Homo sapiens: one gene and its partners. The protein of the gene in region 2 interacts with the protein of the main gene of each other region in a pairwise test. Each region holds a gene or a part of one and is shown on either strand. Other genes may lie near its edges. The genes, in order: TMED8, TMEM254 and SLC16A2.

What was found.
Region 1: the proteins of TMEM254 (region 2) and TMED8 interact in binary tests that used the Homo sapiens proteins (3 or more experiments, as listed by UniProt).
Region 3: the proteins of TMEM254 (region 2) and SLC16A2 interact in a two-hybrid assay, tested with the Homo sapiens proteins (one large-scale study listed by BioGRID).

What each region holds. Positions count from the first base shown.
Region 1 is NC_000014.9:77,336,789-77,339,238, forward strand, and holds part of TMED8 (protein TMED8), read right to left. Parts: 3' UTR 1-2,450.
Region 2 is NC_000010.11:80,088,568-80,090,927, reverse strand, and holds part of TMEM254 (transmembrane protein 254), read right to left. Parts: intron 549-2,360; coding exon of another isoform or gene 516-548; exon of another isoform or gene 497-515; intron 132-496; coding exon 11-131; 3' UTR 1-10.
Region 3 is NC_000023.11:74,531,941-74,534,569, reverse strand, and holds the end of SLC16A2 (monocarboxylate transporter 8), read right to left. Parts: 3' UTR 654-2,629; downstream 1-653. UniProt on the Homo sapiens protein: Specific thyroid hormone transmembrane transporter, that mediates both uptake and efflux of thyroid hormones across the cell membrane independently of pH or a Na(+) gradient.

The DNA of each region.
Region 1 (2,450 bases), on a different chromosome or scaffold from region 2:
AATTCCACACCTTAGAACCACTGGGGTTAAAAGGCAACCTTCTGCAGATAAGTGGTCTTAACAAACAAATATAAAAGCAGACTTTAGAGTCTGGGTTTCAACTAATTCTCTCAAAGAGGGACTGAGCAGGACTCATAAACATAAACTCATATTCCCTACAGATTAAGACTTTTTATGATAATACCTAATTCTACTGCTTAATATAAGACAGCGTTCAGATTTCACTCTTCCATATACATATTATAATGGGACAATATACACTTTTTTAAAAGTCTGAGTTTTTCTTCCCAAAATAACAAAAATATTTTTTAAAGTGCATGTATCAATTCATTAAGAAAAAAATAACTAAGAATGGTCTAATTCCAAATTGCTACCTACTTCCATGATAAAGCTACCTGTTATCTAAGGATTGAGTTTTAATATCAGAGTCCTGAGGACATGTCATCAAGCAACAGAGGTTAGCATAAAGCCCTTCCGGAGCAGCTTCACAATCACTCTTGTACTGACATGCCAGTTAGTAAGGAAAACAGCAGAGATCATGGCCTGAGGGAAGGGGAAAATACAGCACAGATGTATTTTCTTGAAAGATGGAGACCAAGAAACAATTTTTTTTTTTTTGAGACGGAATCTTGCTCTGTTGCCCAGTCTGGAGTGCAGTGGCATGATCTCGGCTCGCTGCAACCTCTGCCTCCTGGGCTCAAGAAATTCTCCCTGCTTCTGCCTCCAGAGTAGCTGGGATTACAGATGCCCGCCACCACGCCCAGCTAATTTTTTGTATTTTTAGTAGCGACGGAGTTTCACTATGTTGGCCAGGCTGGTCTCGAACTCCTGGCCTAAGGTGGTCTGCCCACCTTGGCCTCCCAAAGTGCTGGGATTACAGGCGTGGGCCACGGCGCCTGGCCTCCAAGAAACATTTTTATGAAGACCACCTCCTGGGTAACCCATGTTGAATGAAACAGGTCTGCTAAAAATCAGGGGCTCTCCAACAGAGCCGATATGCAGGGGACATTCTCAGCATTCTCTAATTGGACACTTGTCAAAAGGAACAGAATGTTAGAATCATCTTTGCCTAGGAATTGGTAGTTTAAAATTTTTACATTTATGCGGGGAGTGTGTGTATACATATATATACAGCAAACCAAAAATAAATTCTAAATCCCCCAACCGGCTGAATGGACCCCTGTCTTGGCCCAGGGGATCTCAAAGGAACCTGAAAAACTAGTCCATGATGGGAAGACAGGGTGCCTCATATTATGGTCAGATTACAGGGTGCCTCATATTACCCTCTTCCCTTTGGAATTTAAATACAACTGACCAGCATTAACATTAAAACAGAGATCTTAAGACTAACCAAACAGACCCTTTGTGGCAATAAAATACCAAATCCCAACCTGACTCTGGTATAGCATCACATGACAGCAGGCCCCAAAGGAAATTTACCCCCCAATATATTTATTTGACGTATTTTGAAATGGCCCTACAAAGCTGTCTCTTGTGGGGGAAACTGCATTCTGTAGAGAATCTCCTTCTCTTATTAGGTCTTTTCTGGAGAGTCTGACACCTTTTAAGGCCTAAAAAGAAAAATTCATCATCTGTTCTCTCTGAAGCCTGCTACCTGGAGGCTTCATCTACATGACTTAAGCCAAGCCTCCCTTACTTTAACTTAAGCTGACTTCATCTTTTCAGGTAAAGTTTAACTCTCTCAACCAACTGCCAGTCAGGAACTCTTTGATCTACCTCTGACCTGGAAACCCCCATCTTCAAGATGTCCTGCCTTTCCAGGCCAAACCAGTGTATACCTTACATGTATTGATTTATGGCTTTGCCTGGACCTTCTGTCTCCCTCAAATGTATAAAACTGTAACCCGACTACCTCGGGCACATGTTCTAAGAACCTCCTGAGGCCCCATCATGGGCTCTGAACCTTGGCAAAATAAACCTCTAAATGTATTGAGACCTGTCTCAGATACTTTTTGGTTTACAATATATTTATATTTCTTTTAAGCTGTTTGCTGAAATTTTTTCACAATAAAACACTGGGGGAAAAGAAATCAATACTTTAAATATGTCTTCCTTTCTAAAAGGCCCATCTCTCAACAAAGTGGCAAAACTAAAACTAAAGAAATTTAAGAACTCAGTCACTATAGAGAATTCCAATCTCTCTCCTACTATGAAGCACTTTCTTTCAATTGTTTGTTACTATTTGTTTGTGCTCTAGAGAACAGGGTGAGGATCAAAGCAAACGGTTTTCATTTCATTGTTTGGGTCTATAAATTTGGACTGGGAGGGGCTGAGGAAATGACTGTCTCTTAGAATTTGCTGGGCTGTGGGTTCTCAGTAATTACCTGTGCTTCAGTAAGTAGTATCTTGCCCCTAAAGTTCAATTATTTCAGAAATGTAACATGAAAATAGTGAATTAGACAGTGAAAATATCTTCTTTTAGCTATTTT
Region 2 (2,360 bases):
TCAGACAACTTCAAGTTTGTTTTTGGCGCTTCCGTTTGTAAGCAATCAAGATGGTGAGAGACGCTATCCCAAAGAAGAAAGTCTGTAGGAACCAGAGTAGCTGAGCCCGACCACTTGTGATGCCTTTATGCCTAAAACAGAAAAAACAAAATTTAAACACGAGATGTTAATCTTACAGTTTCATGGGAGTTATTGTCTTCTATATATATATTTTTTAAATTATACCTTCCACTACTTTCATTGGGTTTATTTTGCTGCTTTTCTCTGGCTTATCTTGGATGGTTCATTTATTTTTCATCTTTCTTGTTTTCTAACAAATGTATTTTGGATGGTAAACTATTCCCTGAGAACTAGTCTGGCTACTGTCTAGGGCACAGTATTATAAGACTGTTTCTCATGTGATTCTGATGAGCGGATGGAGTAAAAAGCACTGGTATGGTTTCAGAGCAAATGTTTTGCAAATAGACCAGATATAAATCCTAGCGTGGCTACCTACCAGCTGTGACCTGGGCAAATCACTCAGAATCTCTCAGAATCAGTTTTCTCATCTGAAAAACAGGAACAGCAGTAGCTATCTCACTGAGTCAGTTGAGATGATTTATGGGATAATACACACAACATGCTCAGGAAGGAGCCTGGCACACAGTCATGATAAACACCTGCTTATATTGTCATTCAAATTCAACTGCCTAAAATGAAGTGCAAAAAAAAGATGACCCAATGGAAGGGAATGGCTTGCTACAGTCTCATCTGTACATAAATAAGTCTCACTTGGATGACTTTTATTTAAAACAAACTTTAAAAACAATATATGTAAAAGCAATATAATTTTCTACAGTAACAGATTAAAACAGAAAGATCATATGAATATCTTAATAAATGCAGAAGTGGCATTTGACAAATTTCTTTTTTTTTTTTTTTTTGAGATGGAGTCTCGCTCTGTCACCCAGGCTGGAGTGCAGTGGCGCGATCTTGACTCACTGCAAGCTCTGCCTCCCGGGTTGATGCCATTCTCCTGCCTCAGCCTCCCGAGTAGCTGGGATTACAGGAGCCCGCCACCACGCCTGGCTAATTTTTTGTATTTCTTTAGTAGAGATGGGGTTTCACTGTGTTAGCCAGGATGGTCTCGATCTCTTGACCTCGTGATCCACCCACCTCGGCCTCCCAAAGTGCTGGTATTACAGGCGTGAGCCACCACGCCCGGCTGCATTTGACAAATTTCAACATCCATTCTTTTTCCAACCCCCCCAGAGATGGGGTCTCACTCTGTCACCTACAGTGGAGTGTACTGGTACAATTATAGCTCACTGCAGCCTCAAACTCCTGGGCTAAAGCTATCCTCCCACCTTAGCTTCCCAAGTAGCTGGGATCATCACAGGCACGCACCACCATGCCTGGCTAGGTTTTTTGTTTGTTTTTTGTAGAGACAGTGTCTTGCTTTGTTGCCCAGGCTGGTCTTGAACTCCTGGCTTCAACTGATTCTCCCACCTCAGCCTCCCGAAGTGCTGGGATTACAGGTGTGAGCCACCTGCATCCACATCCAACATCCATTTTTAATAAAACTTCTCAGCAAAGTTAGAAATACAATGGAACTTCCTAATTTTGACACAGGAGATCTACAAAACTCTATAATAAACATGATGCAAAATGTTGAAAGTTCTCCTTTGAGGTCAAGAACAAGGCACACTTCTAGTCAGCACTGCTGGAAGTTCTAGCTAGTAGAATAAGGGAAGAAACATAAATAAAAGGTATACAGAATTGAAAGAAAGAAATAAAACTGTATTTCTGGACAGTTTTATACCTAAAAACTGAAAATAATCTATAAACTGTTACAATTAATAAATTTATTTAGCAAGATTGCTGGGTATAAGGTCAATATAAAAAATTGACTATATTCATACAAAGTACCATCAGACAATTAGAAAATGAAATGAAACAAAGGGAGCCAAGATCATGCCACTGAACTCCAGTCTGGGCGACAGAGCTAGACTCCATCTCAAAAAACAAAAACAAAAACAACAACAAAAGTTGGCCAGGTGTGGTGGCTCAGGCCTGTAATTCCAGCACTTTGGGAGACCGACGCAGGTGGATCGCTTGAGCCCAGGAGTTTGACATCAGCCTTGGCAACATAATGATACCCTATCTTTTTTTTTTTTTTTTGAGACGGAGTCTTGCTCTGTCGCCCAGGCTGGAGTGCAGTGGCATGATCTCAGCTAACTGCAAGCTCCGGGGCCTCCCGGGTTCATGCCATTCTCCTGCCTCAGCCTCCTGGAGACCCTCCATCTTTTTTTAAAAAAAAGTCATTTATAATAACATCTCAAAGTAGAAGTTGCTGGAAATTAATGTAACAACAATGTGTA
Region 3 (2,629 bases), on a different chromosome or scaffold from region 2:
CATCTGTAAAACCAGGGGTGTAAACTGTACTGGAAGTCAATGACATGAGTTCAAGTCTCATCTTGCTCTGTCACTGATGAACTGTGTGAACCTACTGCAGTCTCTTCCTACCTCTAGGCCTCAGTCTCTCCACTTAAATTCAATGCACAGGATGGACAAGGGAGACTCTAAGGTTACTCTCAGCTTTGTCATTCTTATAGGTCTGTCTCCTGCATCATCCTTAATTCCAGGCTCTGTCACTGCCAGGCTGTGTCAGCCAGCCATATAAGTCCCTTTAGGTTCCCCATCAATAACATAAGGGAGAGGGAAGGAGAGCTGAATTGGATTATTATTAATGCCAGTTTTCAATATGGCACATTTGTAGCAAGGCTGTGGCCTTGGTGGGGCCTCCATTCCAACTCAGCAAGTAACCACATTCTCATTTTGTGAAGTAACCACTTTTCCACTTCAGAGCTTGTTTAAAAATCCAATCTCAAATAGTCAACCAACTCCAAACCCCTATATAGCTCTTTTTCTAATGTCTGCTCTCACAGAGAGCATAGAACCTGGCAGAAATTTGATTTGAAAGGAGACTTCAGCTCTGAAGTCAAACTTTCTGCTATTAATCAGGTTAAGACTATTTCTTCCTTGTAGGCAACATACATACCCAAACCAAATTTTTAGATCTGTTTATTTTGTTCCAAACTCCTTGAGGATTTAAATGTCCCATGTCTTGAGCTCTGAAATTTTGTTCGTTCTAGATTTAACTGTGGTGCATAAGAGGCTGCATCCTACTCTAAATATTAATACTGTGCTGCTTTTGCCAATCAACATTCTCTCCAAAAGCACACAAGCTCACATGTGCACAACCACATGTGTGGAAGAAGTAAATTGATATCCCACCATATTATGTGACATCTGAATGGGCAGATTTGGGACCTATGAATGTCTTCCCTTCATCTGGAGAGAAGTGGGCGACTGCCTGATTCTTAAGAGCCATCTGCATCTTAAGCAACAAAAGAGGTCCTACAGAACCACCCTCTGGTGACTTGGTGAGAGTGAGGTGGGGAGAAATGGAAGCAGGGGCATTGTTGCTCCAGTATTTTCAGTGGTCTCTCCTGGGAGTTACAGGGCTCCTAGGGCCCAGATTCTCCTGTTCCACTACTGTTAGAACTGACAGGATAGTAACTAGGCCCTTTCTAGGGCCCCTTCCTACCCACAGAGCTAAGAACCAGTGGGTTTTCCTTTGGGGAGTTGATAAGAGCTGGACTGGGACCAGCGGAGGGGGCTCAGGACTTTGGCCTTGAATGAAATCATTGGAGGCCAACCATGCCCCAGCTGCCTGTTTGTAACGGAAAATCATGAGTGGGAACTATTGTCTTCTTTGGAGCCCCTCAGGACAACCTCATCCTCCTGGCCCGGGGATGACCCTGCCTTAAGGTGGCAAGTTACTGTTGGCTCCAAGTGACAGCCAGGAATGCCTGGCAAAAAGATGATGAAAGGGTGGGTGACAGGAACACAATAGACAAAGGCTCAGAGAGGAGAAAAAGAGACACAAAGAGGCAGAGTGAGGAGAGAGGCTGAGCTCCTAATGAGGTGAGCTGTGCTAACTGAACACAGCCTGGCAGTGCCCTCTGCCCCTAGCCAGGGGCACTGGGAATGTTCTTCAGTAAGACTGTTGCCAGAGCCTGGGCATAAGGAGGCATCAGTCACCTACTTCAGAGGGATCAAAGTGGTTCAGAGTCTACCTTTCATGGCACCTTTAATGCCCTCTAAGCAAAGTGGCCTAGGATGCCCAGCATGGGAGACACATTGGGTGGTAAAGGCTGGGATGGCTTCCCCTTCCCAAAAGAAATTTTCCAACCCTATGTGCAACTGCTGCCTGTACCTTTTTGGGATCCAGGCTAGGAATTGATTTTTTTTTTCTTAAATAGTCTCTTTCCTGGCCTGGCCCAGGTAGAAATATAGACCTGTCATGAAAACTGAGAGATGGGGCTCACCATATCAATAACTACTGCCCCTCCTCCCGCCATGGCAGCTCGTGTCATCAGTCCTCCTCTACCTGCTGAGATGAAAGGAGTTTCTTCACATTTTGCCATGTGTATACAAGAATGGGGTGCTGGGAGGGCCTTGAGGTTAATGCCTTGGACTGTAAGATTTGTAAAAATCAGTGACTGGAACATGGAACACTGTGGTGTTTAAGGTTTCTTCCCTATATGATATTCTACTCTTCCAGTCTAGGATTATATAGCTTGAGCGAAAAAGTGAGATGTGGCTCAGCCTGAGATGAGTGGGACTGATGCTAGTGTTAGGAGTGGACTGGGACAAGGTGAGGCTGATTGGCCCAAGTTCCGGGTCCCTCCTTTCTTCAAGCACCCATGTGTCTATGACAGTCATACAAAGAAATAGAGGGGAAAGAGTATGGAGAGAAGTCAGTAGAGGAAAAAAAGAAGGAAGGGAAGAGGGGAGCAGACTGTTAACCAACCATACAATAAGGGCACTGCTTGTACCCAGTTCTTGGGAAGCCACAGTCATCAGCAACTCTAAGACTAACCAAGGCTACTTGTCTCATTTTGCCTCCCTGCCCCTCCACCCAGTGGCTCCCAAATATGGATGGCAATGACCTCCTCAGCAAACAGAGATTTGGGCC